2 separate regions of the Homo sapiens genome follow, and region 1 is linked to region 2. A link means that fine-mapping ties the variant in region 2 to the expression of a gene that starts in the linked region. Tissue or cell type: whole blood. Region 2 holds a variant in brackets; the other region holds the start of a gene. All regions are shown on one strand. Distances are from middle to middle. Region 1 holds the start of CTSC (cathepsin C). Region 2 overlaps CTSC (cathepsin C).

Region 1 (8,959 bases), 24 kb before region 2:
AACTGGAGTAAAGGCCATCGCTGCTATAAACTGGCTAAGACCTTGGCTAAATTCTGTCCATGTCCTAGGACTTTATGAAATGCAGAACTTAACAGTGATAAACTAGGATATCTGGTGGAAGGAATATCTAAGCAGCAAAGTATTTAGGCTACTAAATGGCTTCTTTTAACTACTTATAGTAAGATATAAGAAAAAACAGAATAGAAAAACATTAGAAAATTTGAAGCCTGGCCACCTTAACAGTGAAAGGGGTGTTTGGGTATGGTCAAGAGATTGCTAAAGAGGTCACCATGGATAGAATGAAGCCAAAGGCTATCCATGACAATGAAATTAAAAACCCCAGAGGCATTTCTGGGATCTTTGAGGCTGCCCCTTCCTCATAGGCCCTGAGCTCTAAGAGGGCAGAATAATTCCGGGGATGGACTGCTGCCCAGGGCTGCTTTGGGTCTCTACTCCCTGCGTTCCAGCACACTGCTCCTCAGCGCCCCCAGCTGTGGTTCAAGCAGCCACAGGTGCAGATTAACCTGCAGCTCTAGGATGTACAAGTGGTAAACCATGGCAGTATCCATGTGGTACTAATTCTGCAGGTGCATAGAATGCAAGAGCTGTGGAGGCCTGGCAGCCTCCACCTAGATTTTGAAGAATGTGTTGGACTGTCTGAGGGTAGAGCTACTGCAGAGAGCTTCCACTAGGGCAATACGAAGTGGAACAGTGGAACTGGGGTTGTTGCATAGAGCCCCCCTAAGGGCAATGCCTAATGCAGCTGTAAGAGCCAGACTGCCACCAGGACCCCAGAACAGTAGAGCCACCAGCAGCATGCAATACCTGCCTGGGAAAGCTGAGGGCACCAGGGTGCCTTGAGGCCTCCTGAAATACCCCATCCCCCAATGTGCACAAGATGCTGTACATGGAATCAAGAAAGATTATTCTCCAGCCTTAAAATTTAAGTCTTCTCTGCTGAGTTTTTGACTTGCTTGGGCCTGTTACTTCTTTCTTCTGGCCTGTTTGTCTCTTTTGGAAAGGGAGTGTATACCTTATACCTGTCCCACCATTGTATCTAGGAAGTAGATAACTTGTTTTGATTTCACAAACTCCCAGATGACACTTTAGACTTTTGAGTTGGTGCTGGAACAAATTCAGTCTTTTGGGACTACTAGGATGGAATGACTGTATTTTGAATTGTGAGAAGGCCATGAATTCTGGGGGTCAGGGACAGAATGCTGTGGTTTGAACATAGGTTGTCCCCCAAAAGTCATGTGTCGAGAGGTGGGACCTTTGAGAAGTGATTGGCAGTGCCCTCATGAATGGATGAATCTATCATGGGTTAATAGATTAATGGATTATGGAATTATCAAGGATTAGTTATCATGAGGGTGGGTCTGTAATAAGCACTAGTTTGGCCATCTCTCATGACCCCCTTTGCCACGTGATACCCTGTACTACCTTGGGATTCTGCAAAGAGTCTCAACCAGCAAGAAGGGCCCCCTTCGATGGGGCCTCTTGACCTTGGACTTACCTGTCTCTAGAACTATAAAAAATAATTTTCTTTGTTTTAAATTACCGAGTCTCAGGTACAGTTCTAGCAACAGAAAACAGACTAAGACAGATGCTGATGTCCCTGGTCCTAGGCTACACTTTGAGAACCACTGCCAAGTAATGCTGCCTCTCTGTAAACCTGCTTTTAATGATGGGAGCCTACTGACAGACCATGTTTTGCACATAAGCTCACTTTTGTTTTATATAATTTTAACATATACTGAATTTTTGGGAATGCAACCTCTTGATAAACCTTCAACAGAAAATTCTACTTTGTTCTCCTGGGAATTTGACCAAGAATTGTCCAACATCAACAACTTTGGTATGGTGTTTGAGTGATTAATTGATAAGGTATTTGAGTTATAACTCATCAGAAATCATTTGTGCTCTCAGAAAAAAGTTCCTATCACATTTACCACGATTCTACAATTTTACATAGAAGTGAAACCACCTTTGCAAAAATTACAACTGTGAAAGAAATCAGACCTAATCGACTCCATCTTGCTTCTAATCTTTAAGCTGTCCTTTTTCATTCCTGGGCATAGGTGGAACAAACTTTGGGAAGTAATTCAGTTCATGGTTTGACTCTGAAACAAAATTGATAATAGCCCTTTCCCAAAAAGACTCCCTTCTTGCCTGGGGACCAGTCTGCCTTCGCAGGACTAACAAATTAGCTACAAGATTAGAAATTACAGTTTAGGGGTCATGTGGCCTCTGGCTCCAAGAGTCTGCACCCTCCCACCCTCCAAGTTGCTTCTGGGGATAACATCTCTATTGTAAAATCTAAGATCAGTGCTTGAGATATTTTACAGACCCTGCACTCCATAGATCAGCTGACACCACTGAGACCAGCAATCTGGCTCAACCATATCTGCCATCCCACCCAGGAACAGAAGATAGCAAGAAAAACTCACTTAGACCCCCTATGATTCCATCTCCAACCTAACCAATCAGCACTCCCCACTTCCCAAGCCCCTACCCACCAAATTATCTTTGAAAACTCTGATCCCTGAATGCTCGGGGAGACTGATTTGAGTGATAATAAAACTCCCGTCTCCCCCACAGCCGGCTCTGTATGAATTACTCTTCCTCCATTGCAATTCCCCTGTCTTGATAAATTGGCTCTGTCTAGGCAGCAGGCCAGGTGAATCCATTGGGTGGTTACAGAAGTGTGAAGAGCAAGTATCTGAGTGCCTCATTATGTTTTCCAACACAGTCATACTTGAACATTTTACATGATGGGATATAACTTATTATACTAGAAATATATTTAAAATATCTGATTTCTTCTTTATATTACATTTGGCATTACATTTCTTTTTATTAAGTGTGTAAGCAGTTTATATATTAATTTCATTTCAGAAAGTAAAGGATTTGGGGTCTGATCAGTTTGAGAATCAATTTTTTGTGTGTGCGTGGAATGGAGAGTTAGTAGTTATTTTTGAGAGAGAACAGTATGGGAATTATTAGATTAGTAGAAATAAACTAAACTGAAAATCAATGTGCCTGAGGTTCATTCTTAAATCTTACTAAGTGGCAATATGACATTCAGCAAGTGATTTAACTCTCTGAATCTCCATTTCCCAATTTTAAAATGAATCCATTAGACTAAGAGGTCCACAAGATCTTTTTCTATTATTCAATCATTGAATAAAGACTGTTTTAAACTTTCTTTACAATTAAGTGTGTTGCTTTGATTACATTCATCAAAGAAATTTCCACCTAAACTGGCTCTTCAATATTGATGACCTAATACAAATTTAATGTTTTAACAATCAGTAACACACCTTCCTAGAGATTCAGGAAGGGAAGCTTAATCTGTCAGGGTATCTTTAAATAAATAGTGTGTTAGCTTAATTATACAATGTCAGCTTTCAATTCTAAGAAGGTATATAAAACCTAAAAGCAAGGTGTTCCCCAACCCCCCGCCACCAACCCCGCCCCAGGCTTTGGAAATTTGTGCCCCCATTGAAGAGTATTTTCACCTCTGAACTTTCAAGGACAACTCCTTTTGCCTCATTGAAACTGGCTTTCAAGCTTGGCAACCAAGATAAGAATATTAAGTACACTTATTTTAACACTCAAGGACACTTTCTGAATAAACCAGAATCTAGGGAGATATAAGTGAATAATTTGGACCTGCTCTCTTTGAATGTTTATAATCTGGTGGAAAAAAAATGGACATATGAATATTGATTTGTGACCAGTGCAAAGGGGGCAAAAATTCATATCCCAAAGAAAACGGGGACACATCAGGTCTGTCTTGTTCATCACTGTGTCCACAGGGCCTGACACCTAGTAGGCTCAGTGGGAGAAAGGAGCCCCAATTACCAACAAAAGCCAGGAAAGAACGGGAGGCTCTTACGGAAAAGGGTGATACTTAAACTGAGCAAGGAGGCACCTGGAAATAGTGCCACCTAATAATTTTTGGCGATCAGACTGACACACTAGAACGGTTCATAAGACCAGCCTTCTCCCATTGGCTAGCTTCCTTCCTCACCCTTCTCACCCTGGGCAAGCCGCTTCCTCTCTCTGGGCCTCTTGCTTTTCCTCTGTAACATAAAAGGGGTTGAGCAATATCATCTCTGAGAGCGCCATGTGTGTGCGTGCCAGAGGGAAAACCCCCACAACGCTAATACATCAAAACTGCAGGTTTGCACAAAAACTGAATTCTGCTGAATGCAAACAGGCAAACAGCATTTACCAGGAAACAAAACAAAATCAAGCACATAAAAAAGTAGGAAGAGTTGGAAAACGGAAGGAAGATAAGTTCTCAAACAGCTGGAATAGTTGATGTTAGCTAGCGAAGTTTTTCAGAGGAAAAAACAAGAAGTTGGTTATGAGGCAAGTGGACCTGAGAAAAAAGACTAAAGGGGAAGAATAGCAAGTAAAACAGAACTCCACTTGCTAGATCTCTCCCTCTGTCGCGCTCTTTCACCTGACCCACTCCCTTATTCCCCCCACACCCTTTCCTTCTCTCCCTACGTTACCGCACAGGAACGAAGTCTGGGTCATGTGCGGACCGCTTGTGGCTCTTAAATCCTCTTTTTGTCACCCTGGCCGTGCAAAATTTTGAAACGTCCCTCGGCAAAAAAAATAAAAATAAAAAAAAAAAATCTGTCCCTGGCCTCTTCCCTAGTTCTGGGTCCAGTTGCAGCCAAGTGAGGGGCAGCGCGCGCTCCCAAGTCCCCGTTTCAGAGACGCGCACGCGCCTGGCGCCCAACCCCCAATCCCCTGCTGCTCAGTGACCCCGCCCACGGGTTTCCGGGCCGGCGTAGCTATTTCAAGGCGCGCGCCTCGTGGTGGACTCACCGCTAGCCCGCAGCGCTCGGCTTCCTGGTAATTCTTCACCTCTTTTCTCAGCTCCCTGCAGCATGGGTGCTGGGCCCTCCTTGCTGCTCGCCGCCCTCCTGCTGCTTCTCTCCGGCGACGGCGCCGTGCGCTGCGACACACCTGCCAACTGCACCTATCTTGACCTGCTGGGCACCTGGGTCTTCCAGGTGGGCTCCAGCGGTTCCCAGCGCGATGTCAACTGCTCGGTTATGGGTAAGCCGCCGGCTCGGCAGTCCTCCGGGTCGTCCTTTCTGCCCTTGAGCCCCTAACGCAGCGCCACGCCAACTACCGCTTCCCCCCAGGCAGACGCTTGTGGGTGGCCAGAGCATCTTGACTGGATTCGGGGACCCTTGGGGACCTTCTTCCCCGCCAGGCTCGCGAAGTTAAAGTTCATCTGCTGAGAACTTCTAACTCCACACTTTCTTGGTTATCTTGGGGACTCAACACTTTGATCAAGAACTTTTTTATTCCTCCCGCTTAATTTTGTTTGCTTTGAGAGAGACTTGGGAACTGCAATCGTTTGGTTCTCCAGTCCGATCTGGTAGCGTTATTTTTAAAATTTATTTTTATTTTTTATTACTATTTTACTAGTGAAGATAGATGAGCTCAGAGACTCTCGAGGATATAGCATGAAGTTTTCTCTTTTTGTTAGATGGTGGGAAAGGGACTTTCTGCCCAGCGATTTTGGTTTGAGCGGGTGTTGATGAGTACTAGAAAACGGCTAGTACCACTCTGCATTGTTTCATGCATTGCAAGGAGGTAAAAATTTTTTAAAAAATTAATAACAAAGAAAACTTAACTCTGAACCTAGTAATTAGAAATGCCCAGAGTCTGCACAATGTTTGGCTCATGGAAGGCTCTCAATAAATACCTAGTGTTTGAACATACTGGAGATATTCCATATGCCTTCAGATAACATGGTTACCCCTAGAACAAAGAACCTAGTGAAGGGGGTGGGGTGGAAAAAAGACAATCACTAGTTAGAAGAGTCACACTGTGGTCTACCCAAACCCTCTTACAGCCTGTGACTTCTGCAGAGTCAGTAAAAAATCAGCTATAATTTTCTTGTCAACAGAACAAAGATTAAGTCATTTGTTACTAAAGAAATACCTTTTTAACTGACTGTATAGCATTTCATAATCCTGAACATTGTAACTTTTTTTTTTTTTTTTTTGAGAATGGAGTCTTGCTCTGTCACCCAGGCTGTAGTTCAGTGGCGGGATCTCGGCTCACTGCAACCTCCGCCTCCCGGGTTTAAGCGATTCTCCTGCCTCAGTCTCCCGAGTAGCTAGGATTACGGGCACATGCCACCACGCCCGGCTAATATTTTGTATTTTTAGTAGAGACGGGTTTCACTGTGTTAGCCAGGATGGTCTCCATCTCCTGACCTCGTGATCCGCCCGCCTCGGCCTCCCAAAGTACTGGGATTACAGGCGGGAGTCACCACGCCTGGCCTTTTTTTTTTTTTTTTTTTTAAATTTGAGTTTGAAGGTTGGGGCAGAAAGAGATCAGGATTTGCACTGCCCTGTCACATGCAATCTCCCATGTCAGAGCATTACTCTCAAACATGGAAAAACTTTAAAATACACAACTCTCCAGATGGACACAGCTGAATCATTTTCAGGAAGGCTCTGCCTATAAAATTACCTTTGGCCTTAATTCAGTAATTAAAGGCACCCACAGGTCTGAGCCCTCATCTATGAAGGTTAAACGTATCATTCCTATCAGCACTAATTGGTTTTATAGGATACAGACCTCTAGTTTGCTGAATAAACTTTGGAAGGATTCAGATTATGAGGTTCTAAACTGTAGAGCCTTTGAGGAGAAAGGTACCCCATTTCTTCTCCGAATAGATCATTTTGTGTCTTCTCCTGGGCTTAGCACATTGTCTTCCTTAGGATCTGATAGTCTGTTTATTTATCTTTTTGTTGTCATACCTTTTATTCTTGCATTTCCCACTTTTGACTAGCATTTTGCCTTTTCTCCGTTTCTGGAAGCCTGTAATTTTCAACATTCCCCATTTCTCCTTTTGTTCAGTGGAAAAATTTCTTCAGTGTTGGGATGCTCTGGAAAGGTACTGTAGTTTTGGGGGTCTCCCTGCCTGCTGGGCTGCATAGCATATCTCTCTTTTTTGAGACAAGGTCTCACTGTGTTGCCCAGGTTGGAATGCAGTTGTGCAATCATAGCTCACTGCAGCCTCCAACTCCTGGGCTCAAGCAATCCTTCCACCTCAGCTTCAGCCGCTCAAATAGCTGGGACTACAGGCAATGCACCACCATAACCAGCGAATTTTTAAAAATTATTTTTGTAGAGACAGGGTCTCACTATGTTGCCCAAACTAGTCTTGAAGTTCTGACCTCAGCCCCGCAAAGTGCTAGGATTACAGGCGTGAGCCACTGCTTCTGCTTGCATTATCTCAAATTTTTAGAGCCTAACTTCACAGTCTTGCCTCGGAGCAGGAACTGTTTGAGGCAACAAGATGGAGCCTCTGGTTTCTTCACTAGGCAGACTGTGCTCAAACTGGGTAGCATGAAAGGAAAGCAGCACAATTAAAATTGAAATTGGGGGATTCTTTCCCCTATTGAAATCCAAATAATTTTCCTTTATTGTGCTTTTTTTTTTTTTCTTTAGGACCACAAGAAAAAAAAGTAGTGGTGTACCTTCAGAAGCTGGATACAGCATATGATGACCTTGGCAATTCTGGCCATTTCACCATCATTTACAACCAAGGCTTTGAGATTGTGTTGAATGACTACAAGTGGTTTGCCTTTTTTAAGGTTAGTTTTGTTGGAAGTTGGATTTACATTTTCAATGATTTGATATCTGAAACCTCTTCTGATTAGTAGACCCTCAGAATTTTAATTTTAGATTAAGAAGATGACCGGAATTGACACCACTCTTCCCAAGAGTAGTAGTAGTTGGTATAATTTTGCCACTTTATTTAAAATTATGATTTTAGTAGGTTTACAAAATACCAGTGCTACATTTGAATATGTATAAATTATGTTTAAAATTTACATTTTGGTAAGTATGACTAAATTCTTAATTTATTTTCCTTATTACTACCACTTTATTTCTAAATGTTGCCATAGTCATTTGGCTTTGTTCTAAATCTGTAGGAAAGATAGAGAGATTACACATTTTGTTTTCTTGCAGTTACTATGCTGTCCTTCCTATCACTACCTGTTGGCTGAGGTAGTGATAGGCCTAAATGATTCATTATCTTAAATGTACTAAATATGTTGAGTAATTTTTTCTTCTAAACTAACAGAAAGAGAGAACCTAGGAGTTACTCCCTTAGGCTGGTTAAAGTGAAAGGTAGCCAAGTCAACCCAGCTTGTTTCCTTCTCTCATTAGGAAAGAACTATTGTTCATTCTCATAACACACTTTTTCCAATTGCAAACATACTCAGGGTTAAAATAGTTTAGCACAAATTGCAGCCCATTTCATTTGTTCTTCACAAGCTGGAACTTTTCTTGTAAGCTAAATATTAAATGGTTCAAGTAAATTGGATACATAAGCCTGAAACTAGGCGTTTCTCATTATACATAGAGTATAAATTAAGACAGACTTTTTCATGGTGAAAGGTTTACAGCCTTTAAAACATCTGGGAAGAAGTGGGAAAGTAGGGAATAACTCTGTTAAATATGATAAAAGACAAAGCACCAACAAAGGCCTAGTTCTAAACTTGTTATAATTTCTCATGGGAGTTGTGGTTTGTCACAAGGTTATGGCGGTCCAAGCAAGTTTACAATATTTTTTAGAATAATAACTCCCAGAAATATTTTTAAAATAAGGACCTTTCTTTAATATGGAAAAAAAAAAGATGAAATAGAGAGGAAGAGGTTGCCTTTCCTCAACTGGATTTGCTGGTGTGATATGCAGCTGGTGGAAACCAGTTTGTCCATGCTAGCTGTTGATGGCCACCAGTCCACTGAATTAGTGGAAACCCATGCTTAACCAGTTGTTAACTATTTTTAGTATCATTTCCAGATGCTACGCATTTTTTTTGTAAAAAACATACTTACAATAGTATCTATATAAATTTTTAAAATTGTAATGTATATGTGGTATATTTAACCTGAAAAT
Region 2 (8,959 bases):
CTCCTAAAGTGTTGGGATTACAGGCATGAGCCACTGCGCCTGGCCAATTGTATTTTTATGTTAGAAATATATATGGGAGTTACAATACTTTGTTTCCAATGTTCCGCTGGAAACCACTGGTTGAAAGGATAGGTCCCAGTGTCAGCTGCCCAGTTGGCAGTTTTGGATAGAATATAAGTTCTATGAAGGCATGGATGAAGTATCCTTCATGGTAATGATGGTAATGTTAGTATAGTCACTTGTTTAATGTTGTATAACTTTTTAACTCTTCCAACTTCAATTTCATCTATATCTTTCATAGCAGTCCAGTAAAGTAGTATCAATTATAGATATCATTCCTACTTTCAGATAAAGTAACTGAGGCTCACTAGTTTTGACTTGCTCAAGGTTACGTAAATGATAAGTGACAGACTGGATTTAAAGGGCGGAGTCCACTTTACTAAACTGCCTCTGTCTTCTAGCCAAGTTTGTTATGTAAAGTAAGTATTCAGACATTGGCTAAGTATATTATTAATCAAGAAAACAGTAGAACAGGTTTAAGGAATTTTTTTTTCCCTCTCCTCAGTGTCAAAAAGCAGTCAAGTAAAAGATCCAAGATAAATAACTTCAGTTCCCAAAAATAACTTCAATTCCAAAATTTCCCTATGACTAGGTATATCTAATTGGATAGCTGATAAAATGAGTGGGAAATTGAAGAAGGGATATTTTGAGAATGTGTGGCAACTTAATGGTAATATTGAAGAAGCAAATGGATAGTTATTGAATCATAATAGTTTTTTAAACTTAAATACTAGGGCTTGATCTTCATATTTTAGGAAATTATCTATTTGTTGCAGTAGAAATTAGCATAAATGAATGGAAACTTAAATTATCTCATCTGTGCAAGGCAGTCTTCAGAGACTGATGTTTATATAAGTGAAAACTCAGAAAAATTTTTTGGCTGCATTTCAAGCTGGATAGCGGGGTCAAAACTTCAACTTCTTAATTGGTGATACAACGTCAGAAATCACAAAAGAAGTATTTCACAGGAAAAAATGACATACCCCGAAAACATTCAAATCAAGAAAATCACAGGGGTACAGTGGATGGTCCCCCTTAAGGTACTGCGTACTTGGCTTCCCCGCTGGTAAATGCCTCTCTTTTACTAAGTTGTTGTCGTGCAGAGTGGCATTGCAGCTCTGTACTTTTACAGAATAATTTCAGGTTCTAAAATTGATACATTATTTCAGATTGTAAGAATAGTATAAAATAAAATTTTAAAAGGGAAAATAATTCCATCAATTTAATGGAATGTGTAGGGTTTAAGTTATAACAACAAAAACAAAGTTGTAGTTTTTTAGGATTACTCATATAAATAGTGTGTCTATTAAGAATTACTGGCTTTATGAATATTAAATAAGAAGGCTGGCCGTGGTGGATCATGCCTGTAATCCCAGCACTTTGGGAGGCCGAGGCAGACGGATCACCTGAGGTCAGGAGTTCAAGACCAGCCTGGCCAACATGGCGAAACCCTGTCTCTACTAAAAATACAAAAATTAGCCGGGCGTGGTGACGCATGCCTGTAATCCCAGCTACTCAGGCGGCTGAGGCAGGAGAATTGCTTGAACCCGGAAGACGGAGGTTGCAGTGAGCTGAGATCGCGCCACTGCACTCCAGCCTGGGTGACAGAACAAGACTCCATCTTGAAAAAAAAAAAAAATTAAGACAACCACAGATATAAGGATTTGCAATTAGAAAGCTTGAAGGGAAATTTTTGGAACTTCTAGGTCAACCTAAAATTACAAATAGGGAAGCAGCTTTGGAGAGGAACATTTGCACTTCTGAAGTAATACTGTGATTTGGACTGTCAGACATTGTGATATATTGGCATCACCACACCTCTGTTAATTATAAACTTACCTATTCTCAGTGCCTTGTTAACTGTTGAAATAGGACTTGACATTTGTTGTTCTTCCTCTTCTGTTATTCATTTATTCACTCATTTAGTAGTTAATTACTTCCTAGTGCCAGATAGTTTTCTAGGTACTGAATAAACAAAAATCCTATTGTCATAGTTATGTTTTTGTGGAAAGAACAACCTGATAGACTATCGTGAAAAATAAATGAGTTAGTATACATAAAACACAGCCCATGAGATATAGTCTGTAATTATCATCCCTGCTTCATTTATTTATTTATTTATTTATTTATTTAGAGAATGGATCTGATTCTGTCATCCAGGCCGGAGTTCAGTGGCTGGATCATTGCTCACTGTAACCTCAAAACACCTGGCCTCAAGTGATTCCCCCAACCTCGGCGTTCCAAAGTGCTGGGATTAAAGGCATGAGCCACTGTACCTGGCCATTGCTCCTGTTTTAAAGATGAGGAAACTGAAAGTACAGAGAGGAACGTGACTTGCTCAGGATCACACAGCCAATCAGTGGCAGAGCAGTCTAGGCAGTCTAGGCCTGAAGGCATTATTCTTTCTTTCTGTTCTGCGTCAAAAACCCTAGGCAGGCATGGTAAAAAGACTGAAAGAGCCAAGGCAACATAGGTACCTGAAGAATGGGAGAACACCTATGAGGACTGCTAGAAATTTTAGGCAGCCCTTTAAAGGCCTTGGGCAACAATTTGAACGTGACTCATGAGTCAGTTAATTCTCTGCACCTTTTTTTTTTTAGAGAATACAATGGATAAAGCAATGACCTTTGTAACATGTAAACCTGTATTTGAATCCTTTCCTCTCCATTTAATTTTGCAGAGTCACCTTTTCTTCATTAGAAAGAAATTTTATCCCAAAGAGATTATCGTGAGGCTCAAATAATATAGGTGGAAGCCCTTTGGGTTTAAAAAAAAGCCTTTTCTGTCATTTCTGGGTATCTCCCGTCAGTGATTTTAGTAATTGTTTACCTCTCTGGCTCTTCGTGAGAAGACAAATTGTAGGAAGAAGTGGAGGATGGCATTGGGTAGGATGCTTAGTTCTAGTTCCACCACTTCCTTAGGTCTTTTTTTTGTCCCCCAAGACTATATCATTTCTGTGTTCTCTTGAACCTGTAAGATTTATGAGTAATCTGTACAATATTTATAAAGTATGAAATCTCTGCCATTGTGGCACAAAAGTAGCCATAGACAATGTATAAATGAATGGGCATGCTGTTCTCCAGTAAAACTATATTTATAGAAATAGGCAGTCTTCTCCAATTTTAGTTTGCTCACCCCTTTCCTATAGAACTCAGGTTTATCATATACAATGTTACACATTATTCCTTTGAATAAATTGTTTACCTAATACTTTTTAAATTTGGGCATTTTCTAGGACATTCTATTGTTTTTATTTTTAACTTGTGTTATACTGCAGTGAATGTCTTCCTGTGTGTAGCATTTTGTTTGTGTATGTGTGTCAATATCTATAAAGTAGCTCTTAAGAACTCTGGAAACATTGTCAGACTGCTTCCTCAAACAGCAGAGGTGGGAGGGAGCATCGGCCTAACCCTACCTGGCCTGCCTTACCAGCATGCAACCAAGGAGAAGAGAATAGGATCAAGAGCCAGTGCCAGAGAGAAGTACATAATACAACTTTATGGAGTTTAGGTTGCATCCTATAAAGTTACCATGTTACACTGTTTCGATCTACCAAAGTAGAAGTTTTACATAGTTTAGTATGAAGTTAATTTTATTAACCTTTTCACACAACACACCCTCTCATATTGCTGCCCAACAATGTCCTGGGTCTTTGTTTCCATGGTCATCATATTGAGTAGGGTTTTAGCAGGGACTTGAGTAGTTGGGAACTGAACTCATGCTAGTGAAGCCATTCTTCACTAGAAGCAGACATATGGGATCCAGAATATCATGAACAACCAGCTGGGTACAGTGGCTCACACCTGTAATCCCAGCACTTTGGGAGGCTGAAGGAAGCAGATCACCTCAGGTCAGGAGTTTGAGACCAGCCTGGCCAACATGGTGAAACCCTATCTCTACTAAAAATACAAAAATTAGCCAGGCCTGGTAGCACATGCCTGTAGTCGCAGCTACTTGGGAGGCTGAGGCAGGAGAATCGCTTGAACCTGGGAGGCGGAGGTTGCAGTGAGCCGACATCTCGCCAGTGTACTCCAGCCTGGGCAACAGAGTGAGACTCTGTCTGAAAAAAAGAGAATATCATGAATATCACCAAAGATAAAAGCAAGATGCGGATATGAGTAGCCCAGAGTAACTTTTCCTGTGCTATATAACACAGTGAGTGGTGATTCCCACAATTCAAGTCCAGTTTTTCTGGATTCTAAAGCCATACATTTTTAACTCTCCCCCTAAATATGATTTGAATTCAGAGAGTCAGATGCAATAAGGTAATTTTAACTTTAAGTGTAGTTTAGCCCACACATTTCTCTAAACTGGGGGTTGGCAAACTACAAACCTCTTTTTGTAAGTAAAGTTTTATTGGAACACAGCCTAGCTCATTCATTTATGTATTCCCTTTGCACCTTTTAGGTTGAGTAGTTGTGACTGAGGTCTTCCAGCCTTCAAGCCTAAAATATTTACTATCTAGTCCTTCAAAAAGAAGTTTGCCAACCTCTGCAAACAAGTGAAATAATGTGTATTAGAGTAGAGCAGGAGTCCACAAACTACAACCTCTGGAGCCAAAACCACCCTACTGTCTGTTTTTGTAAACAGAAATTTTATAGAAACATAGTTGACCCCTGTGCCAATTTGTTTGAGTCTTGCTTTTGATGGCTTTTGTGCTACAAGGGCAGAGTTGAACAGTTGCAAGAGAACTAAGTGGCCTGCAAAGCCTAGTGGTCTTTGCTGTCTGGCCATTATAGGAAGTGTTTACCAAACCCTGCATTTGATCATGGAATCCCAGAATGTTTATACCTTTGAGGATTTTTTTTTCTACTTTCCATATTTTACAGGCAACAGAACTAAAGCCTCGTAAAATCTTGCCCAAGGTTCTACAAATAGTCTTTTCTATTAAATTAAGTCAGAGCCTGAAATTGTCTGTGCCCAAGTCTCTCCTCAGAAATTTAGCACAGCATTTTCCCTTTCTGTCTCCCACATGCTACACAGTCATCCTGGATCATGTGCCCCGCCTCCATGAGGAGATGTTCTAACATGAGGGTGACTAGGCTCTGGAGCCAGAGCATCTTAGTTCAAATCCTGGATCTGTTAAAAATAATAGTTATTTTTCAGTTCTAACACTGAAATAAGACAAAAGGCCATATTACTGAAATAAAGTGTAAAGAATATATTTAATACTCAGGTTACTTTAGCCCCCTCATGATCAGAATATGCTAATAAATTGAGAGATTGACAGAAAAAAAGGATTCTGTTTCACTGTGGCTCACACCTGTAATCCCATCACTTTGGGAGGCCGAGGTGGGTGGATCACTTGTCTGGAGTTCAAGACCAGCCTGGCCAACATGGCAAAACCCCGTCTCTACTAAACAATACAAAAATTAGCCAGGCGTGGTGGTAAGCACCTTTAATCCCAGCTACTCGGGAGGTTGAGGCAAGAGAATCGCTTGAACCTGGGAGGTGCAAGTTGCAGTGAGCCAAGATCACACCACTGCACTCCAGCCTGGGC[A/G]ACACAGCAAGACTCCATCCCTGGAAAAAAAAAGTTCATCATTTGTTCTTGTAGTTTCCTAGTGTGGCCCTTGTCTCAGTGGAAAATTGTAGTGTGATAGACTGAGGAGAATTCTGTTTCTGCCACTTCGCCTGTTGCCTTGGTAGGAGCTCCTTATCTCTGAGCTGAGCTCCTTTTGTCCTTGGTAAAATGTGGTTATTATCATCTGCATCCTCATAGTCTTCTTGTAAGGACTGTGAAGTCACTTTTGAAAAATGCCTTGAATATGCCAGATGGTCTGTTTTCTTTCTTTTTTGTTTTGTTTTGTTTTGTTTTCCCTTGGCCTTCATTCCTGGAAGTGTTTTGTTATATACATTTTGTTTGGTGGCCAACAGTGCTAACCACAGAAAAGTTTGTATGTCTTCTTTTTCTAGAATAATTCTTACAGTGTAACCTCTCAGGGTGAAGTTTTTGTTTTGAAAGGGGCACATTTACTGTGAATGAGAGCCATGGAAATGGACCTGAAATTTGAAGACAGATTTTACTTGGTTTTCTTTTCTCTTATTTGTTTGCAGTATAAAGAAGAGGGCAGCAAGGTGACCACTTACTGCAACGAGACAATGACTGGGTGGGTGCATGATGTGTTGGGCCGGAACTGGGCTTGTTTCACCGGAAAGAAGGTGGGAACTGCCTCTGAGAATGTGTATGTCAACATAGCACACCTTAAGAATTCTCAGGAAAAGTGAGTTGCTACAAATGAGACATACGTTTAGTTTTGTTTTATAGTATATATGAATATGTGTGTACATTTTTGGAATTTTAGTTTGATTATACAAAATATCTTTGGCTTAGAAATATTAGGCATGCTATGTAAAACCTTACTGGAAAAATAAATTGACCAACATTATTGAGAGTATTTTTTCAAAGTGTTCCAAAAGTAATGGACCAATGATTACTTTAAATGAAATCATGTAATGGACCACAGAATTGCAAATTACTAATAAAGAAAAGCCATTTTGCTTATTGCCATGTAATAACATGTTGCATGATACAAGTAGATACGTATGTTTATGCTGCAACAAGTATAGGTGATACTAATTGGGCAACTTTTAAACAAGACCATAAATAACTGAAATCAAAGTTCTTAGTATTTATGCAGCCTGTTGGTTTGCGAGGGCTGCCATAACAAAGTACCACAGACTGGGTGGCTTAAGGAAGGTTGTTTTTTCACAGTTTTGGAGGCTAGAAGTCCAAGATTGAGGTGTTGTCAGGTTTGGTTTCTTCCAAGGCCACACTCCTTGGCTTGCAGATGTCTGCTTGCTTACTGGGCTCCTAAACAGTCTTTTCTGATTGTCCTAATGTCCTCTTCTTATAAGGGCATCAGTCATATTGGATTGGGGCCCACCCATATGACCTAATTTTACCTTAATGACCTCTTTAAAGCTCTGTCTCCAAATACAGTCATATGGCTGTGATACAGGGGGTTAGAATTTCAACGTATGAATTTTGAGGGGGACACAATTCAGACTATAAACTGCAGTTAATGTTTACTGTTAAATTAAATCTATAACTGACTAAACCACACAAACAGGAGATTTCAAATTAGACTTTATTAGTTTTGGAAGGAAGAGATGAAATGTTGTTACTTTTTCTGTTTTATGTAGTTGTAAAAGCCACTAAAAATGTACATGTACAAATCATCCCAAGCCAGGCAACATTAGTAATGAATGACTGCAGCACAGAGGTAAGAGAGATGATTTAAAGGAGGATGAATTGTCTGCAAAGGTGCTGGGCAAGATCTAGACTAATTCATCCCCTTCATTTTAAGTTTAGGTTTTAAATAGCTTTGTTTGGCTTGATCCTAGAGCTACACATTTACTTTTAACTTGTTTACTTTGTACCCTATCATTTAGGATATGCTATGTACTATTGTACTCTATTTGATATTTCAAACATTCTCTCATTTAGTGAAGAAGCTCCCAACCGGAGTGCTCAGAACCTACATTGCCTCACCTGTGAAGTGAGCATGTGGGACTGAATTGCCTTTGAGGTCTCTTTCAGCTCTTAATGATCTGTTATCCCATAGTAAGATACATTATTTTTAATCTCGTTGGATCTTAAACACCAAAAATAATAGTATTTAAGACGTAGGATGCTATCTTGTCATTATTTTAATGCACATGTCAACACACGAGGTTTTGCTAGATGTTATGATAAAGCAAGCGAAACAGCAGGCTACTGCTCCTCAAATATCTACAGTCAATGAAATATTGACTGGCGTTGTGGGAAAATATCTCAAAAGTATTTTATTTACAATTTAAAATATATTCTTTTGCCTAAAGAAACAATGAAACAACTATAACTTGTTTTTGTTATTGTGTTAGTGTAGTCATACATATGATACAGTTTTATAATCTGCTTGATAAGGGTACGTCTCTGGGTTTTTCACACTTTGCAACAAGTGGGAAAGAACTTCGACAAAAACATTAAAACATTATCAACCTGGTTGCACGTTTTTCTGATTATTTTCAGTGCTCTTAGGTTTTTAGACCATATCAAAATTCTCTCTCTACACACATGATTTATAAGGGAAAGAAAAGTTTGCAGTATGCCTAAAATGTTCCTCAGGTTAATTATATCTTGTTTTGCATAGTTGAATGTTTATGGAAGTCTTAGATAGTGAGTCACTCTGAAACCACAGACTCTTTTTTAATAGTAATAATATGGTGAGTTCTATAATTCCTAGCATCTAGCACACAGGTATGATAAATGTTTTAATTAAGTGAATAATCAGCTTCCTGAATTTTTCTACTTTGTAAATATGCTCTTTGTGTGTTGAATCTATTTACATATATATCCAAGCATTTGGCACAAGGTAAACCAATGTGGCTCAGATTTTAATGTTATTGTGAATCACTTGGGGATCTTGTTTAAAAAAAAAAAAAAAAAGGAGATTCTGATTCAGGTGATCTGGGCTGAGTACTTACAGTATGCATTTCTAATAAACTTCTGGGTGTTGCTACTGATATTGGTTCAAGAACTAAATTCTGAGTAACAAGTATAAACCGAATGTCCATAAAGTATAATTTCTTTTAGTATCATATGGTTATAATGCTTGCATTTTGTATATATGTTGCATACAGGTTTTGCTTTTCTCTTTTTTCTTATTAAAAAGGTTATAAAGGTACACTGTAGAAACTGTAGGGAGTAGGGGAAAGCTTGGCATCTCATGCCACCATTCAGAGGTAACCATGTTTGGCATTTTAAAAATGCATTTATAGTGTGTGTGTGTGTGTGTGTGTGTGTGTGTGTGTGCGCGCATACATATATATGTATGTATTATACATATACGTTAATATACATATAATATACATATATTACTGTGCAAAAGTTGATAAATTGATTATGATTATGTATAAA

Evidence for each region. PIP is the estimated chance that this variant, and not a neighbour inherited with it, causes the effect.
Region 1: CTSC starts here. The variant in region 2 is fine-mapped to the expression of CTSC in whole blood (TOPMed, PIP 0.97).

The regions. Positions count from the first base shown.
Region 1 is chr11:88,333,624-88,342,582 of GRCh38, reverse strand. CTSC (cathepsin C) reads left to right here and starts at 4,847. Exons shown (of 7, transcript NM_001814.6): 1 at 4,847-5,082; 2 at 7,501-7,646. The coding sequence starts at 4,911. LOC101929174 (a long non-coding RNA gene) reads right to left here and starts at 4,699. Exons shown (of 5, transcript NR_188511.1): 1 at 4,527-4,699. RefSeq lists an enhancer at 4,852-5,131.
Region 2 is chr11:88,309,710-88,318,668 of GRCh38, reverse strand. CTSC (cathepsin C) reads left to right here. Exons shown (of 7, transcript NM_001814.6): 3 at 6,115-6,281. Among named protein-coding and RNA genes, the nearest start is that of CTSC, 24 kb to the left of the region's middle. RefSeq lists a silencer at 5,581-5,781. The variant A/G (reference allele first, on the strand shown) is at 5,561.